2 linked regions of the Homo sapiens genome follow. The protein of the gene in region 1 purifies or fractionates together with the protein of each later gene. This does not show direct contact. Each region holds a gene or a part of one and is shown on either strand. Other genes may lie near its edges.

Region 1 (3,811 bases):
GCCTTCTCCTGGTGGTGCCGCCTGGACCACCCTCTCTCTTTTCTACTTTCTCTCATGTGATCTGCAGGTCGAAATGAGAAGGGGCAGCTGGGACATGGTGACACCAAGAGAGTAGAAGCCCCTAGACTCATCGAGGGTCTTAGCCACGAAGTGATTGTGTCTGCAGCATGTGGGCGGAACCACACCTTGGCCTTGACGGGTAAGGAGGTGGCTGCTGGTGTCTCCTCTCAGTTTGGCAAGAGGCCAGGTGGTCTGCCTTGGGGATGGGGCGTGGGGTGGTGGAGTTCCCCTTGTGACTCTTGGTCAGGATCAGAAAGAGGCCCTGAGAACCTTGGCATGGAGTGGCTTCTTGAGGGCATTGGGAGCCTCCCCAGTGGCCATAGGAGGCCCATCTGGGAGTAGGAGACGCTGCCCTCTGTTTCTCTGCACACCCAGTTTCTGATGTGAAATGGCTTTGCTGTGAAGCGTCTGCACTGCCAGCTTTTGGGCAGTCTCACTTGCCTTCTGCCTGGCAAATGAGCTGTTTTTATTATTTTGATGCCTTTGATTCTAAATCTAGTTCAAAACATTCACCATTATCTTCCCTTTTGTGATATTTTTCCTTTCTTCCAGAAACGGGCTCCGTGTTTGCGTTTGGGGAAAACAAGATGGGGCAGCTGGGCCTTGGCAACCAGACAGACGCTGTTCCCAGCCCCGCGCAGGTGACCCCTCCTCAGCTCCGGCTCCATGGCTTTTTGTTTCTCTTTACTTTTGTGTTTGATTTTCTAAGGTGGGGTCTCCGTTTGAGTTAATTTACCCCTTGTAAAAACAGGGTCTGGATGTTTAGTTACATGCTGTAGAGTTTTTTTGTTTGTTTTTTTGTTTTTTGTTTTTTTTTGAGAACGGAGTTTCACTCTTTTTGCCCAGGCTGGAGTGCAATGGCGCAATCTCGGCTCACTGCAACCTCCGCCTCCCGGGTTCAAGTGATTCCCCGGCCTCAGCCTCTGGAGTAGCTGGGATTACAGGCATGTGCCACCACACCTGGCTAATTTTGTATTTTTAGTAGAGACGGGGTTTCTCCATGTTGGTCAGGCTGGTCTGGAACTCCTGACCTCAGGTGATCCACCCACCTCGGCCTCCCAAAGTACTGGGATTACAGGTGTGAGCCACTGCACACAGCCTTGCTATAGTTTTTAAAACAGGCTTAGTTTGTGGTCGGGTTGAAAACCATCCTGAAAACATTTTGTTTCCAAATGGAGAAATCTGTTAGAAATGCCTTGTCGTAAGCCTGTTCTGTTCCAAAGAAAGTGAGTGATGTTATATGGATGTAATTGTACTTCCCCCAAATACTTTGTTTTGACCTTGTATAAAGTCACCAGCCAGATGCTTAGAATACAAATACGAGATAGGCAGTCTTTTTTTTTTGGAGGGGAGACAGAGTCTCGCTCTGTTGCCAGGCTAGAGTGCAGTGGCGCGATCTCAGCTCACTGCAACCTCTGCCTCCCGGATTCAAGCGATTCTCCTGCCTCAGCCTCCCGAGTAGCTGGGACTACAGGCATGCTCCACCACGCCTGGCTAATTTTTGTATTTTTAGTAGAGATGGGGTTTCACCATGTTGGCCAGGATGGTCTCCATCTCTTGACTTCCTGATCTGCCTGCCTCGGCCTCCCAAAGTGCTGGGTGTGAGCCACCGCGCCCAGGAGATAGGCAGTCTTTTTTTTTCTAAGAAACTTGAGTTGGAGGGGTGAGATTTATACCTTAAAAACAAACTACTACTAAAGGCAGAAGAATGCTAAGTGCCTAATTAGTGGTCTAGGTGATGAAGGAAGGGAGGGACTTGGTTTTATTGATCTTAAAGAGACAGTGGCTAGGCTTTGAACTGCTCTGTGCTGGGAGGGTGGGGGTCTGAGGGTGCTTCTTTACATATCTTCTAAGCTTTGTGTTCTAGAAATGCCTTCAGCTTTTGCCTTCAGAATTACTGAGTTTATTAAACTTCCGTTTGTAACCTAGTAATTGTTTCCCACCAACATGCAGAGAGGTAGAGGCTTTTTATCAGTCTTTAAAAAAAATGAAAGTCTCCTTTCTTGTCTTTTCAGATAATGTACAACGGCCAGCCAATTACCAAAATGGCCTGTGGGGCTGAATTCAGTATGATAATGGACTGCAAAGGAAACCTCTATTCCTTTGGGTGCCCTGAATATGGTCAGCTGGGTATGGAAGTACATTTTTTAAAAGCTCTGTAATCTAACTGTATATATTCAGAACTAGAGATCAGTGTGGGGCTGCACACACGTGTTAGAAATGTGGGTAATTGATCTCAGATAATAGCCTTTGTCCGTTAAGTGGATCTCACGTTCAGCAGAACAGCGCGTCCTCATTCACAGGATTATGGAGTATTGCAACACTGCCTCAATGGAAAAGTTGGGACTGGAGTCCTACAAAAGATTTCTTTTTTTCTGATTTGGGAATTCATTTATATAAAGGGATTTCAAAGTTAAAAAAAAATCAGACCACCTTCATTCAATTTCACATTTAAAGATTATGCCTTTATTGAAAATGAGAAAATTACGGAAAATGAACGTTGTTCTGGAAACCCTGGCCTGGGCGATTATTTCGGGTTGCCACGTGAGGAGCCCTGGTGGACCCCCTCCCCGTGCGTCATCCCTAGCCAGAATCTAGTTGTCCAGAAACTTGTTTCTTCGATCTCATTGGTGGAAAAGGAGAATTCAGGCATCAGTTCTCAGTTAGTGGGGGGAGTGTCTTCCGACCTGATGGTCTCCATTCTCCTTCCCATCGGACCCTAAGTGCGGTTCCCTGAAGTGCGCTTCCCGGTTGTGGCTCTGCCTCCACTCCAGCCCCTCTGGGGAGGCCTCCGCGAGGTGTGGCGCGGGCGCCCTCTGCTGGCCGCGCGCGCTCCTGCAGCCGCAGCGCCTGGCAGATGGAAAAGGTAAAAATAGCGCCGAGCCCGCTGGCCTTAGCCTCGGGGAACAGTGACTTTGTGAAACTAAATATACTTCAAGTCAGAAGTGAATAAGAGAGAACAGCCCCTTACGCACATTTCACATTTCGCGTTGGTTGCCGTGGTGGAGCCCGAGACAGTTGGAGAGCGGTTTCCATGGCCACAGCCCTGCTGCGGTGCCCAGCAGCGGTCCGCTTCCTGCCACGTGCGCGCTCCTGCTGCCTTGGCCTCCCCTCTGCACCCCGGCAAGTCGATTTTCCGTCAGGAAGCATGACATGCTGTTGGTGATAAAAACGGCTCACTTTCATGGAGCAGTGACTGTGTGTGCCAGGCACCATGTAAGCACTTTGTACAAATTCGCAGGTGCTCAGTTACACTCAACTTGCAGGTAGTTTGGAAATCGGCTTGATTTGTAGCTACAGAATCGCTTATTCTCAGCGTATTACTTGCTTTAAGGCAGGTGTTTGTTTCGTTGTCCAAATCCAGATAGATCACTTTTAGAATGAACCTAAATCCGACTATGGCCGTGTCTCATCCACACACACTCATGCCTTGTGCCCCCTTTTTTGCAGTGCACTGAACTGGGCTGGGCAACGCCAAGATAAGAAAGACGGAGTCTCCCTCTGTCACCCGGGATGGAGTGCAGTGGTGTGATCTCAGTTCACTGCAACCTCCACCTCCTTGGTTCAAGCAATTCTCCTGCCTCGGTCTCCCAAGTAGTTGGGACTACAGGCGCCCGCTGCCACACCCAGCTAACTTTTTTTTGTATTTTTAGTAGAGACGGGGTTTCACCATGTTGACCAGGCTGGTCTCAAACGCTTGATCTCAAGTGATCTACCCGCCTCGGCCTCCCAAAGTGTTGGGATTACAGGC
Region 2 (3,811 bases), on another chromosome or scaffold:
TTCTTGCTCTGGGTTGGCTTACGGTCTGTATTGGGAGACAGAAAGGAGGCATTTAACCCAGTCAGAGTGAGGTTTTCACTGAAACCTTCCTTAAAATGACATCTGAATTATCTTAAAAGAGAAATGTCAGTTATTGGGCAGGTAAAGTTTGCAAGGAGGGAGAAAGGACATTCCAGGCAGAGCCGGCAGTGTGAGGAGCACAAGTAGTAGCATCATAGCAATATCTGACTTTATTGAGGGCATATTATGTACCCCTCTGTGTGCCAAGAAAGTAGAAGAGAACACCTAGTTTCAAAGATGTAGCGTCACAGCAATATCTGACTTTATTGAGGGCATATTATGTACCCCTCTGTGTGCCAAGAAAGTAGAAGAGAACACCTAGTTTCAAAGATGTAGCGTCATAGCAATATCTGACTTTATTGAGGGCATATTATGTACCCCTCTGTGTGCCAAGAAAGTAGAAGAGAACACCTAGTTTCAAAGATGTTACTTGACTTGCCGAAGGTCTCAAACACTGGAACTAGAACTTGAACCTGGGCCTAGAGCCCATGCTTTTGACCACTGGTGTTCATAGGGAACCGTAAGCAGTTCCGGATTATGAGAAGGTTAAATTGGGAGTTTGAGGGGCTAGAGAAGTAGATGGGACCAGATCCTGGAGTCCTTGAGAGAGCCAGTTAGAGACTGAATTGGGAGGGAGGGAGGGAGCAAGCTAGCAAATGAATGATGTGGGCTTGAGGAAAGTACTGCCAGTTTGTATCGGAGGGGTGCTGACTGAGAACCCCAACAGAAGGACTGATGAAGGCCTGCCCCATTGGAATTGGCAGCTACGGATTGAGTAACATCAGTTTGCAAGATTTTCTGAGTTTATTCAGTAATAAGCCACAGACATTTCCCTAGAGAGAGGAAGGTTACTTGGTGTGTGCGGTAGAAGGATTGAGTTACAAGAGAATTAAGAATTTTGGTGAAGGAGTGGATTAGGTTGTCAACATAGAGAAAATGTGTTGTCAAAGGCCAGGCGCGGTGGCTCGCGCCTGTAATCCCAGCACTTTGGGAGGCCGAGGTGGGCCGAGCGTGAGGTCAGGAGATTGAGACCATCCTGGCTAACAAGGAGAAACCCCGTCTCTACGAAAAATACATAACCTTAGCTGGGCATGGTGGCACGTACCTGTAGTCCCAGCTACTTAGGAGGCTGAGGCAGGAGAATCGCTTGAACCTGGGGAGGCAGAGTGTGCAGTGAGCTGAGACTGTGCCACTGCACTCTAGCCTAGGCGACAGAGCGAGACTCTGTCTCAAAAAAAAAAAAAAAAAAAAAAGAGGAAAAGAAAAGAAAATGTGTTGTCAAGGGCCTGGAGATCTCTGAAATACAAAAGCAGGTGGAGTGTGAGTGCAGAGAGGCATGAAAGGGATGGGAAGATGTGAGCTTGTGGTCAGCAAATAGCTTCCTAGAGGTCAAGAGTTCTAACGTGGAACAGCTCTATGTGGTAACGATGCCCAGGCTGTGGGTGTAGGGGACTGAAATGCAGGGGAGGCAAAGGTCACTGGAGTTGAAGTCAAGAAGTAGTACTACAGTTCCCGGCTTGTGGTTTGGTTTTCCACACTGGTGGTCAAGGTACCCAGGATAGTGGCAGAATCAAGGGAGAGAAAGACTGAACAGGTAAATTTTTTTCTTCAGTACCAAACATTTTATGCTGTTTTTGTTGCATTTTCCCAGGGGACAGAGAATGAGGAGTAACTCAGCCAAGAAAGTTGGTTTTCTGCAAAGAAAGGCAGATAAAATGGTGCCCTTTTTCCTACCCAATCTTACATGTATTTCAGAGGATCCACACCAGGCATTGGTTTCCAGCAGTAAATTTGCAGCGATAAATGGCTTCCTTCTATTAGGTGTTCCCTTAGTTTATTCAGACTGCTATAACAAAATACCTTAGACTGAATAATTTATCAATAATAGAGATTTATTTCTCACAGTTGTAGAGGCTGGGAAGTCTAAGATTAAGGCACCAGCAGATTTTCTTGTCTCGTAAGGACTGGCTCTCTGTTGCTGTGTCCTCATGGTAGAAGGGCAAAGCAGATCCCTGCACAATTCTGTAAGGTCAAGCTTGAGAGTTGGAGCCAGTTTAAAAAAAGCAAACAAACAAACGAAAAAAACAACTTTTTTTTTGGCGGGGGCGGGGGGGCTTCTCGCTCTGTCACCCAGGCTGGAGTGCAGTGGCGCGATCTCGGCTCACTGCAGCTTCTGCCTCCTGGGTTTAAGCGATTCTCCTGCCTCAGCCTCCCAGGTAGCTTGGATTATAGGTGCCTGCCACCACGCCCAGCTAATTTTTGTATTTTTAGTAGAGACGGGTCTAACCATGTTGGCCAAGCTGGTCTTGAACTCTTGACCTCAAGTGATCCGCCCGCCTCAGCCTCCCAAAGTGCTGGGATTACAGGCGTGAGCCACCGCGCCCTGCCAAAAAAAACAACTTTTATAATGTCGCCAGTCCTCTAATCCCGTTCATGAGGGTTTGCCCTTATGACTTAGTCACCATCACCTCCTAAAGGTCTCACCTCTTAAACTATCACATTGGCAACTAAGTTTCAGCAAATGAATTTTGGGGGACACTTTCACACATGGCAGACTGTCCATTGCTGCTTTAACAGCTGTCTTGCTCTTCATCAGAAGCTGAGCTTTGAGTGATTCAAATATACATTCTTTTTTTCTCTATCTCCTAGTCCTAGTTTGTTACAAAGAAGGCTTCTCTCTCAGGTTTGGAAGAAATAAGTTAAATTTGATCTGCCCAAACCCATTAGTACAAGTGTTCAACAATAAGAAAAGGAATTACATAGAAGGAGTTTAGATTGGGGGGTGAATGAAGTAGGGCTCTTGGTTTCTTGGTTTCCTTTATTTCTTGTATAAATCCTTTTTTTCTTTTTTCTTTTTTTCCTTCAACTTTTAAGTTCAGGGGTACACATGCAGGATGTGCAGGTTTGTTACGTAGGTAAACGTCCCATGGTGGTTTGCTTTACAGATCATCCCATCACCTAGGTATTAAGCCCAGCATCCATTAGCTGTTCTTTCTAATGCTCTCCTTCCCGCAACCCTTCCCCTCCCACAGGCCCCAGTGTGTGTTGTTTTTCCCCTGTGTGAGAACATGTGGTGTTTGGTTTTCTTTTTCTTTTCTTTTCTATTTCTTTCTTTCCTTCTTTTTTGAGATGCAGTCTTTCTCTGTCACCCAGGCTGGAGTGCAGTGGCAGAGCTCGGCTCACTGCAACCTCCATCTCCCGGGTTCAAGCGATTCTTGTGCCTCAGCCTCCTGAGTAGCTGGGACTACAGGCACACACCACCACATCCAGCTAATTTTTGTATTTTCAGTAGAGACGGGGTTTCGCCATGTTGGCCAGGCTGGTATTGAACTCCTGACCTCAAGTGATCTGCCTGTCTCGGTCTCCCAAAGTGCTGGGATTACAGGCATGAGCCACCTCGCCTAGCCAGTGTTTAATTTTCTCTTCCTGCATTAGTTTGCTGGGGATAATGGCTTCCAACTCCATCCACATCCCTGCAAAGGACATGATCTCATTCCTTTTTATGGGTGCATAAATCCTATTTTTCTAAGAGTTGCTAATAGATAAGCTTTTTTCTAGGGAAGCAAATGTGGGAAACCAAACTTTCCAAAGTGAGAAATAGGATAATAGGGAGAGGAAAATATGAACAAATGAATGAGAAGTGTGTGGAAATGGATCAAAACAGATCTGAGTGATAAGGATTGGATTGTGGCTGATTGGGTAGCTAATTCACTGTTTAGAAAGTGGAAGTCATGTGGCAGTACACCTGGTT

Evidence for each region.
Region 2: the proteins of RCC2 (region 1) and PAK1IP1 purify together in Homo sapiens (affinity purification with mass spectrometry, with the first as the bait; one study listed by BioGRID). This does not show direct contact.

The regions. Positions count from the first base shown.
Region 1 is NC_000001.11:17,419,093-17,422,903, reverse strand, and holds part of RCC2 (protein RCC2), read left to right. Parts: intron 1-67; coding exon 68-199; intron 200-612; coding exon 613-701; intron 702-2,075; coding exon 2,076-2,190; intron 2,191-3,811. UniProt on the Homo sapiens protein: Multifunctional protein that may affect its functions by regulating the activity of small GTPases, such as RAC1 and RALA. Required for normal progress through the cell cycle, both during interphase and during mitosis.
Region 2 is NC_000006.12:10,697,910-10,701,720, forward strand, and holds part of PAK1IP1 (p21-activated protein kinase-interacting protein 1), read left to right. Parts: intron 1-3,811. UniProt on the Homo sapiens protein: Negatively regulates the PAK1 kinase. PAK1 is a member of the PAK kinase family, which has been shown to play a positive role in the regulation of signaling pathways involving MAPK8 and RELA.